Linked DNA regions of Homo sapiens: region 1 is linked to region 2. The links come from fine-mapping of genetic effects on gene expression. Tissue or cell type: whole blood. Region 2 holds a variant in brackets; the other region holds the start of a gene. All regions are shown on one strand. Distances are between the middles of the regions.

The links. PIP is the estimated chance that this variant, and not a neighbour inherited with it, causes the effect.
Region 1: CPEB4 starts here. The variant in region 2 is fine-mapped to the expression of CPEB4 in whole blood (INTERVAL, PIP above 0.99).

Annotation. Positions count from the first base shown.
Region 1 is chr5:173,885,836-173,890,835 of GRCh38, forward strand. CPEB4 (cytoplasmic polyadenylation element binding protein 4) reads left to right here and starts at 2,514. Exons shown (of 10, transcript NM_030627.4): 1 at 2,514-5,000. The coding sequence starts at 3,899. RefSeq lists enhancers at 2,021-2,260, 4,285-4,786, 4,787-5,000 and a silencer at 4,791-5,000.
Region 2 is chr5:173,833,840-173,838,839 of GRCh38, forward strand. No RefSeq gene overlaps it. Among named protein-coding and RNA genes, the nearest start is that of LINC01485, 45 kb to the left of the region's middle. RefSeq lists a silencer at 1,867-2,161. The variant T/G (reference allele first, on the strand shown) is at 3,029.

The sequences.
Region 1 (5,000 bases), 52 kb after region 2:
TTCTTCTTTCACTCTGGTCTCTCCTGCCGCCTTGTGAAGAAAGTGCTTGCTTCCCCTTCGCCTTCCGGCATGATTGTAAGTTTCCTGAGGCTTCCCCAGTCACGTGGAACTGTGAGTCAATTAAACCTCTTTCCTTTATAAATTACCCAGTCTTGGGCATTTCTTTATAGCAGTGTGAAAATGGACTAATAAAACTTTTTAGGAGTCCAGCACTTCACATGTATCCCATGTAATTTACAAACTTAGCAAGAGAGGAAATATCATTCACATTTTATCTAGAAGGAACCAAGGGCTTATAGAGGTGATGCCCAGTTTTGCACAGCTAGGAAGCAGCAGAGCTGGGATTCAAATTCAGGGCTGTTTGGTTCCAAAGGTGCTCTTTTTTCCAAGTCATGGCTGCCATTTTAGCCACTGATAATTAGTAGCTCTGAGGGACCCTAAACCATCTTCTGGGCATGGAACATTCATTTGTTCATTCAATAAATGTGTTCTGAGTTTTGAGTCTGCTCTGTGCCAGACCCTCTTCTGGCCACTGGGGACATAAAGATAAATCAGACACAACCTCTGCCCTTAAGAAACTAACCCACTGACAACCAGCAGTAATTAAAAGAGAGCAATCTACAAGACATTAGAGAGAGGGCCAGTCAAGGAAACCATTCTGGCGGAAAAGACACCTGACGGAACCAGCTAAGTTTCCAGGCATGTCCAGTTGTAGGGAATAAACAGCAGGTAAGACCCAATCTCTATGCTCAAAGAATCCATAGTAGAGTTACAGAGACAAGACTCATGCTCATGGCACAATGAAAGAGAATAAAATCACCGATTGAAGGCCCTCAGGTGTTCTACACGGAAGTGATGGAGGATTGACAGACTGAGGCAGAAGTTGAGACCATTAGAGGAAGGCTATGGAAATGAAATGGAAGCCACCTTTGTTCATACTATTTTTCATTAATCTTGGTATCTTTTTTTTCCCTCTAGTTGTGCCAGTTACTTCTGGCTCTACCCTGATTTCTTTGTTCATTTTTCTTCCTGCTAAAGGAAAATACTCACTTATTTAACATATTTAAAGCTGTGCTGAGAGCAAAGCATTATCCTAAGCCCTGATGGTGGTCATAGCGTTGGGAATGTACAAAGATAAACAGGACATTAAAGCCCTTGAGTACCAAACATAATGAAAAGTCTGATATGTGAGCTCCAAACCAAATGGCAAAAGGAAGGAAATAATTAATTCAGACTTGGAAACAGGAGTGAGGGGTGGGGGGTGGGTGACGGGTGGAAGGGGTGGCAGTGGGTTGGGGGGCTGTCACTCAGGGAAGACTTCATTGTTGCTGGTTTGTTCATTCACGTTTTCAGGATTCATTCACTGATGTCTCCTATCTACAATGTCTGCTCCTGAAAGAGCCCACGGTCCAGCACAGGTCTGGAAGACATAAACCATCACAATATAGTGTGAGAAACAAGCACGAGAGGTACACAGGGCCGTGGACGCTTATAAGAGAGAATTCAGAAGATGCTGTTGGTGGCTTTTGAACTGATTCCTAGAAATAAATAGGAATTTACCAAAGGAGAAGAGTGGAAAGGACATGTAAAAAGGCATTGAGAGTGTGTTTGGAGGGGGAAGAGGCACTAAGATATACCACCCATTAGGTAGAAAGGCTTGAATACCAGACTAACAAGTTTGGCCTTTATCTTCGAAATAATGGGCAACCATAGAAGAAATCGGAGCATGTGAGGGTCAAGATAAAATTTTAGTTTTGGAATTTTCCCTCTGGTATTGCGTGTAAGGTGTACTAGATCGGGATGATACGGGGGCATAGCCACAGACGCCTCAGCTGCATCTCTGCACCTGGGAGACTGCACCAGATGCGAGCCTAGCAGAATGGGAGAGTGGGAGGTGCGGGTGAGCGAATGGAAGGTTAAGGGAGAGTCCCTCGTGAGGTCTACATTCTGGGCAAGGGCAAACGCAGTTCTAGGCACCGCACAGCTGCTGGCAAGACCCGCCTCCCCTTCCAGATCCCTCTGGGGCGGAGCTCGGGCCAGAGCACGTGATGCTTGGAGCACCACCTTTACTGTGGGCACCCTTCTCATTCATCCGCGGTTTCACGGGCCGCCACTTCGATCTCCAACACCTTGACCGTATGCCTTCGTGAGCGAGGAATCCGTTCTCCTTGACACGTCCCTATTGCTCCTCCTGCAAAGCCCAGTTAGGGAAGAGAAATATCAAAGGAGTCCCTTGCCCACACAAAAGATGGCGACCTGCTGCGCTCACTCTGGGTGGGGGAAGCGGGTTCCAGGCGCCGGGCCTCACTAGGCGAGGCGCAGACGGAAGAGGCGTCTCTGGAGGTAACTTTTCGACCTTCCTGGGAGTAGCTCTGAAGCGAGGGGGCGTGGCCTCGCCTGAGTTCTAACAGATGATTGGTCTTCCGGCAGGTAGGTGGGGAATGAGTGCTACCCCCACCCCTCCCTCTTCGAACCGGAAGTGTCTCTGGGTCTTTCCAGCTGGTTGTCATTTCACTCGGCTCGGTCCTGAGGAGAAGGACTCAGCCGCGGCTGCGGGACCCGGGCACCGGGAGGCGGTGGCGGCGGCGGCGGCGGCAGCAGCGGCGACAGCAGAGGAGGAAGAGGAGGAAGAAGGAAAGAAAAAGAAGAACCAGGAGGAGTCCTCAACAACGACAGCGGGGACTGCGGGACCAGGGTAAAGCGGCGACGGCGGCGACGGCCCAGCAACCGTGAGGAGAAACAAAAGCCTTCTAAATTATAGTTTAAAAAAAAATTCTGGGGGAAAAGAGAGAGAAAGCCGAGGGGGGAGGCCCTTCTCCTTTAAAATAACTACGGTAGTGGGTTTTTCCTTTTTTTCCTCTTTTTTCCCTCTCTGCGGAGAATCGAACTGAGGGAACTGAACAAACCGCCCCTGGGTCCCATGAGGGAAAAAAACCCCGGAGCCGCAGAGAGGGGAAGAGGCAGAAACCGCAGGACCTTCCAGGTCGCCCCCTCGGTCCCCGCACCCCCAGGCCGCCCGCTCACCCTCGTCGAGTCTCGCTAATCCCTCCTGATCGCGACCCCCGCAAGAGGGAGAAACGGGTGTTTCCAACCCCTTTCATGGGGGAGAGGAAGCCGCGGGGAGCCCAGGAACAGCGACCGCAGCAAGATCTGCACCCGGAGCCTCAGGAACAGCCCCAGAGGCCAAAACTGCACCCTGCGAAAGAGCAGAAAACAGGACCAGGAACAGCAGAAACCTCCCTGCAATCATCTTTCCATTAGTCAATGCTGATTTCCTCTCCCGAAACCAGGAATTCACTTCCCACCCCAGATAACCTAATATAATCTATATATATAAATATATAATATATAATGTTCTTAAATTATTCCTGATTTTTTTTTAACCAAGCTGCCAAGAAAAGAACGTATTCCCCTCTTAGTCCTATTCTAATTTTTATGTGAGTGAATCTAAACTGCTGAGGAAAACCATATGTGATTGTTAAATTATATATATCTATATTTTTACTCCGCGCAAGGCTTATTCTTCTACATCCATAGATGCTTGAGAAGCTCTGTTTTTGTCATTCATGTACATTTTCCTTTGGAAAAAGAAAGCGCCTATTTTACTAACCAAAGACTTGATTTTTACCCTCTTCATTTTTATTCCCTCCTAAAAATAAGCCCAATTGGATCCAAGTCAATGTTTTAAGAGATTTTTTTAAGAGTTGTTTTTTCTTTCAGAGACCAGAATTCCAAATCAGAACAATTTAAGGTGATAAGCTGCGATCTTTGAGCTAGCTATAAATAAGACATTTCAAGCAAGCAAGCAAACAACTTAAATTTGGGGTAGAGGAAAAAAAAGGCGTGAGACATCAGGTTGTCATTTTTTATTGTGAGATTCTGCTCCTAAAGATAATAAATGGGGGATTACGGGTTTGGAGTGCTAGTGCAAAGCAATACTGGGAATAAATCTGCTTTTCCAGTCAGATTCCATCCACATCTGCAGCCTCCACACCATCACCAAAATGCCACCCCCAGCCCTGCTGCTTTTATAAATAATAACACAGCTGCCAATGGCAGCAGTGCTGGGTCAGCTTGGCTTTTTCCTGCTCCAGCTACCCATAACATTCAGGATGAGATCTTGGGGTCAGAAAAAGCAAAAAGTCAGCAACAGGAACAGCAAGACCCCTTAGAAAAGCAGCAGCTTTCCCCAAGTCCAGGTCAGGAAGCTGGAATACTGCCTGAAACAGAGAAGGCAAAATCAGAAGAAAATCAAGGGGACAATTCTTCGGAAAATGGCAATGGGAAGGAGAAAATAAGGATCGAATCTCCAGTGTTGACAGGGTTTGATTATCAAGAAGCCACTGGGCTAGGTACTTCAACCCAACCCTTGACATCTAGCGCATCGTCTCTTACTGGTTTCAGTAACTGGTCAGCAGCGATAGCGCCTTCCTCCTCTACAATAATCAATGAAGATGCAAGTTTCTTTCACCAGGGAGGGGTCCCTGCTGCTTCGGCTAATAACGGTGCTCTGTTGTTTCAAAATTTCCCCCATCATGTCAGCCCTGGCTTTGGAGGCAGCTTCTCTCCTCAGATCGGGCCTCTCTCACAGCACCACCCACATCACCCTCATTTCCAGCATCATCACAGCCAGCATCAGCAGCAAAGGAGGTCTCCTGCCAGTCCCCATCCCCCACCCTTCACACATAGAAATGCTGCTTTTAACCAGCTGCCTCATTTGGCGAATAATCTTAACAAACCCCCCTCTCCGTGGAGCAGCTACCAGAGTCCGTCACCAACACCCTCCTCTTCCTGGAGCCCGGGCGGTGGTGGATATGGTGGCTGGGGAGGTTCCCAAGGCCGAGATCACCGCAGAGGGCTGAATGGTGGAATAACGCCCCTGAACTCCATCTCGCCTTTGAAGAAAAATTTTGCAAGCAATCATATTCAGCTCCAGAAGTATGCTCGCCCCAGCTCTGCCTTTGCACCTAAATCCTGGATGGAAGATAGCTTGAACAGGG
Region 2 (5,000 bases):
AAATGGCTAACTCAAAACAAAAGCAGGGTCTCCGGAGTATTCCTAGGCATCCAGCAAATTGAGGGAAAGTTATTTTGGGTTAATCAATGTACTTCAGTTGCAATCACATCTTGCCCCATAGAAAAGACGGAAAACAAGGACTCACTGTTTGAAGTCTAACTCAGGGTGAACTAGGAAGTGACACTGACCTTCTTATGTTCTTCGTGTTTCACTATTTTATTTTTTTCTGAAAAATTACACCCTGCTTTGCATGAAGCCAAAAACAGTAGCCCCTCATGTTCCATTTCTCCCCCCAACCTGCTGATAGTTTATGTCTTTCCCACTCACACTGGCGATTACCAGAAGCCACTGGCAGCTTCCTTGAATGTCTTTACAGGCAAGGAGTCTATTCTCAGCCTGGTAGGGACTAGACATTGATTAATGGCTGGGAACTTTGGTTTCTGGCAAGACAAGCCTTAGTTTAAGCTGAGGAGGGCTTTGGGTGTTGGTCAGACTCTTGTCAAAGTCAAACTGGGAGGCACAATGGGTGTCTTGGACACAGCACCGTCACGCATGTCTTAGTCTCCTTCTGAGAAATGTGCCCCTGTGTATTAAGACCCAATATCATGGCCTTAACACTCCTTGAAACTAATGTTTACCAATCACTTCAGAGTTTAGAGAAAGTGTTCGCTTCTGAAAAGCTCTTTAACGTTGATGAGGCAATCATTTAAATTCCGAAGAACTGTGGAGCACAGATAAAGCGCATAATTCAATTTATTTCTGTTTAAAGCAATATACAATGAACTGCCATGTGTGAGATTCTGATGGGGTACCATCCTTTGGATGAACAGGATGAAACTGATAGAGGTGCTTTCTGACTTCAGGGAAATTAGACTGTCCTAATTTAGAGAGGAATCAGTATGATAAATGGTAGAACTGCTCATAGTGATAAGCCCTAACATTTTCATTATGTTCTGCAATATGCAAAGTACATGCATATAAGTGTATAGACAGCTAGCTACAAGGCCATTCTTTTCTCCTGGCAATGGATGCCAATGGTCTCTGATTGCTCTCCCACTGGTTCATCCAACCCAGTGGGAAAAATATCAGCTGGAGTCATGAGGTATTATGCAGGTGAAAACAATCAAGTGGTTGACTAAGAAAGTCTGGGCCTTTGGAGTCAGACTGAGATGTGAATCCTGACTGTTCTAACTCAAAGCCTGTCAAATGAGAGACACGTCCCTCTCCATCTTGTATGATACTTGCTTTATCAATTCCAGGTGTGCCTCATACAGAGGTGCTGGTCCATGCCTCAGCCTTGCCATGCTGTCCTCTACTCAGGTCCCCTGTCCTGTGCCATTGTACATCTTGTCTCCTGCCCCAGAGCTCCATGAAGAGTGTCGTCTTGCTCTTTGCAAAACATCTGCCTCTTTCTTTGTCTGGAGGAGGAGCTGCCAGGAAGGGAAGCTGCCAGGAAGAAGAGCAACTCAAGTTGGCCTACTTCCTGTTTTGAAACCCAGGGACTTGCTTGCAATCAAGGATGGGTTGTAGAGGCTTGAGGAAGATAGTTCCCAGCACCCCATGAATAAAGGGCTGGTTGTGGCGTGTGGTTCGCATGGCTGGCAGTGTGCTCTTGAGCCTATTTCTGGCTTAACAATATGCCCTCCCTCCATGGGGTTGCATTTTCTTAGAAATCCAAGATGCCAAGAAGGGCAATGTTGGTGGCCTGATCTGGTACAGGAAAGCTAGCCTGATGGTATGTGTTCCTCTACCTTTGATACTTAGTGTTTTCCTCCTTCCCTGTTCCCATGGAGAAGAAGCAGCAGGGCTACTGGGGCACCGAAGGAGAACTCACGACTTACTCCCTACAGCTTTCCAGAAGCACAATGCGTGGCCCTCATCTCTGGCACCACAGTCGCTCCCCTCTTTCAAGCCACATCATCTCTTGTTTGAATGCCTGCAATATCTCCTAGTCACTGTCCACGCCCTTGCCTTCCTGCAATACCTAGTCCATGCAACAGTATCATCTTTTCAGAATGCAACTGTGACCCAGGGCTGCCCAATCAGAGCATGACATCGCCTGGCCGGCATGACTGGTTGAGGGATGGCCTGTAATCTAAGCTAGTGAATAATTATAACTCTCACCTTTTAAGCTCTTGCTGTGTGCCAGACATGGGGCAAAACCCCTGACAACCAGCATCTCACTTCACCCTCACAATAATCCTATGCTGTCAGCACTATTATTATTAGAGGGGGTTAGTAGCTTGCCACAGGAATCTACTGAGAAAAGCGTCAGAACCTGAATTCAATACTTTCTAAATCCACAACCCATGTTTACAATGAAGTGTTAACAGAGACATAGAGCACCCTGTGGCTATTTTCTCCCAACAACAACACTTTTCACTATGTCTTCTAGTGAGGCCAGTGTTGTGGTGCCATGTAGACAAAGCCAAAAACAAAAAAACAGGGGCTGGGGGGACCTGCTGAACAGCCTGGCTACCCAGGGCTTATCAGCGAGATTGTCCTCCCTCCTGCAAGCAAGGTAAGGCATATATGCCCCCTAACAGTAGTAGGTTTTATTTTTTTTTTTCTGAATAAAAAGCCACCACATTGTAGTAATCTGCTACATCTTGGTGGACTGATCAGTTTCTCCTCCTGAAATTGATCTGGACATATTTTTGCATTTATCCTGGGATGGAACCTCCTGCAAGATTCCTCCTTTTTGGTTTGGTTTGAAACACAATGGTTTGCCACCATTACCGATATCCTCAGCACACTTAGCAGGCTGTCCCAAGAGTGGAAGAGTCCCGTCGTGCACTGGGCCAGGAATCTGGGGTCAGAAGGACCAGTGTGAAGAGCTGTGTAACTCCAACACAGCACAGGAGCTAGCTAAACCCATCTCTCAATAGGAGAAGAACCCTACCTCTCAGGGCTGGAGGAGGGCTGCACTCATTTCTGTCCATGCTTAGTCAAGTGCCTGGCACACACCCTCCTAAAGACTAAGTAAATTGTAGCTCTTTTTATTCATTGTTCTACTGAGAGGAAGAGT[T/G]GATTTTAAACTCATGATTATTGGCTTAATTAATTTATACCCCAAAATTCAAACACATGTTGCTGATATATAAGTAGCCCAGTCCTTCCACTTTTTGTCTCCCTTTCTTTTTTTTTTTTTTTTTTTTGAGACAGAGTCTTGCTCTGTCACCCAGGCTGGGGTGCAGTGGCACAATCTTGGCTCACTGCAAGCTCTGCCTCCCGGGTTCACCCATTCTCCTGCCTCAGCCTCCCGAGTAGCTGGGACTACAAGCGCCCGCCACCACGCCTGGCTAATTTTTTTTGTATTTTTAGTAGAGACAGGGTTTCACTGTGTTAGTCAGGATGGTCTCGCTCTCCTGACCTCGTGATCCACCCGCCTCGGCCTCCCAAAGTGCTGGGATTACAGGCGTGAGCCACTGTGCCCAGTCCTGTCTCCCTTTCTTAATAAAAAAATTACTCCTCCTATAAAATGATCACTAACACCACTGATAGGGTTTGGCTGTGTCCCCACCCAAATCTGATCTTGCACTGCGGCTCCCATAATTCCCATGTGTTGTGGGAGGGAATCAGTGGGAGATAATTGAATCATGGGGGCGGTTACCCCCATACAGTTCTTGTGGTAGTGAATAAGTCTCATGAGATCTGTTGGTTTTATAAGGGGTTTCTGCTTTCACTTGGCTCTCATTCTCCCTGCCTGCCGCCATGTAAGACCTGCCTTCCGCCATGATTGTGAGGCCTTCCCAGCCACCTGGAACTGTGAGTCCATTAAACCTCTTTTTCTTTATAAATTACCCAGTCTCAGGAATGTCTTTGTTACCACTGATTTCTATTTTTTAAACTGGAAAATGCACATGACATCACTTATTTCTCCCTATATAAAAACCCATGATGAGGTACTTAGAGGTACCAGAAATCACAGAGACAGAAAGCAGAATGGTGGTTGTCAGCAGCTGGAGGGAGGTGGAAATGGGGAGTTCTAGTTTAATGGGTACATAGTTTCAGTTTTACGGAATGAAAAGAATTATGGACATGGATGGTGGTGATGGTTGCACAATACTATGAATATATTTAATGGCACTAAACTGTATATATTAAACACAGTTAAGGTAGTAAAATTTTATGTTATGCATATTTACCACAAATTTAAAAACTGGAAAAAACTCATTGTAGTTTTCTGATTATATATTCAACATCCGGGCGAGGCACAGTGGCTCACATCTGTAATCCCAGTGCTTTGGGAGGCCGAGGCAGGAGGATCACTTGAAGCCAGAAGTTCAAGACCTGGTCAACATAGCAAGAATCTACAAAAAAAAAAAAAAAAAAAAAAAAAATCAACTTAGCCAGGCATGATGACATGTGTTTGTAGTCCCAGCTATTTGGTAAGCTAAAGAAGGAAGATTGCTTGAGCCCAGGAGTTCAAGCCTGCAGTGAGCTCTGATCATGCCATTGCACTCTAGCCTGAATATATAAAATACAAAAAAAAAAAAAATTCAATAACCATGTATTCCAGAAAATTTAGAAAATTCATAAGATCACTGAGAAAGTAATATGTCACTAACATTCTCATCCTACTACCTAAATAGTTGTAATCAATGATTTGGTGTATTTACTCAAAATTTTCTGTCTATGTATACTTATGTTTTTAAAAATAAATAGGATTATCTCATGTTAAAAAAATGTAAGTCATTTCCAATTCAGGTGCCAAAGAAAGTTTTACTTCTGGGTAGGGCACAGTGGCTCACACCTGTAATCCCAGCACTTTGGGAGGCTGAGGCGGGTGGATCACAAGGTCAGGAGTTCAAGACCAGCCTGGCCAAGATGGTGAAATCCCATCTCTACTAAAAATACAAAAATTAGCTTGGTGTGGTGGTGGGCACCTGTAATCCCAGCTACTCAGGAGGATGAGGCAGAGAATTGCTTGAACCCGGGAGGCAGATGTTGCAGTGAGCTGAGATCGTGCCACTGCACACCAGCCTGAGTGACAGAGCGAG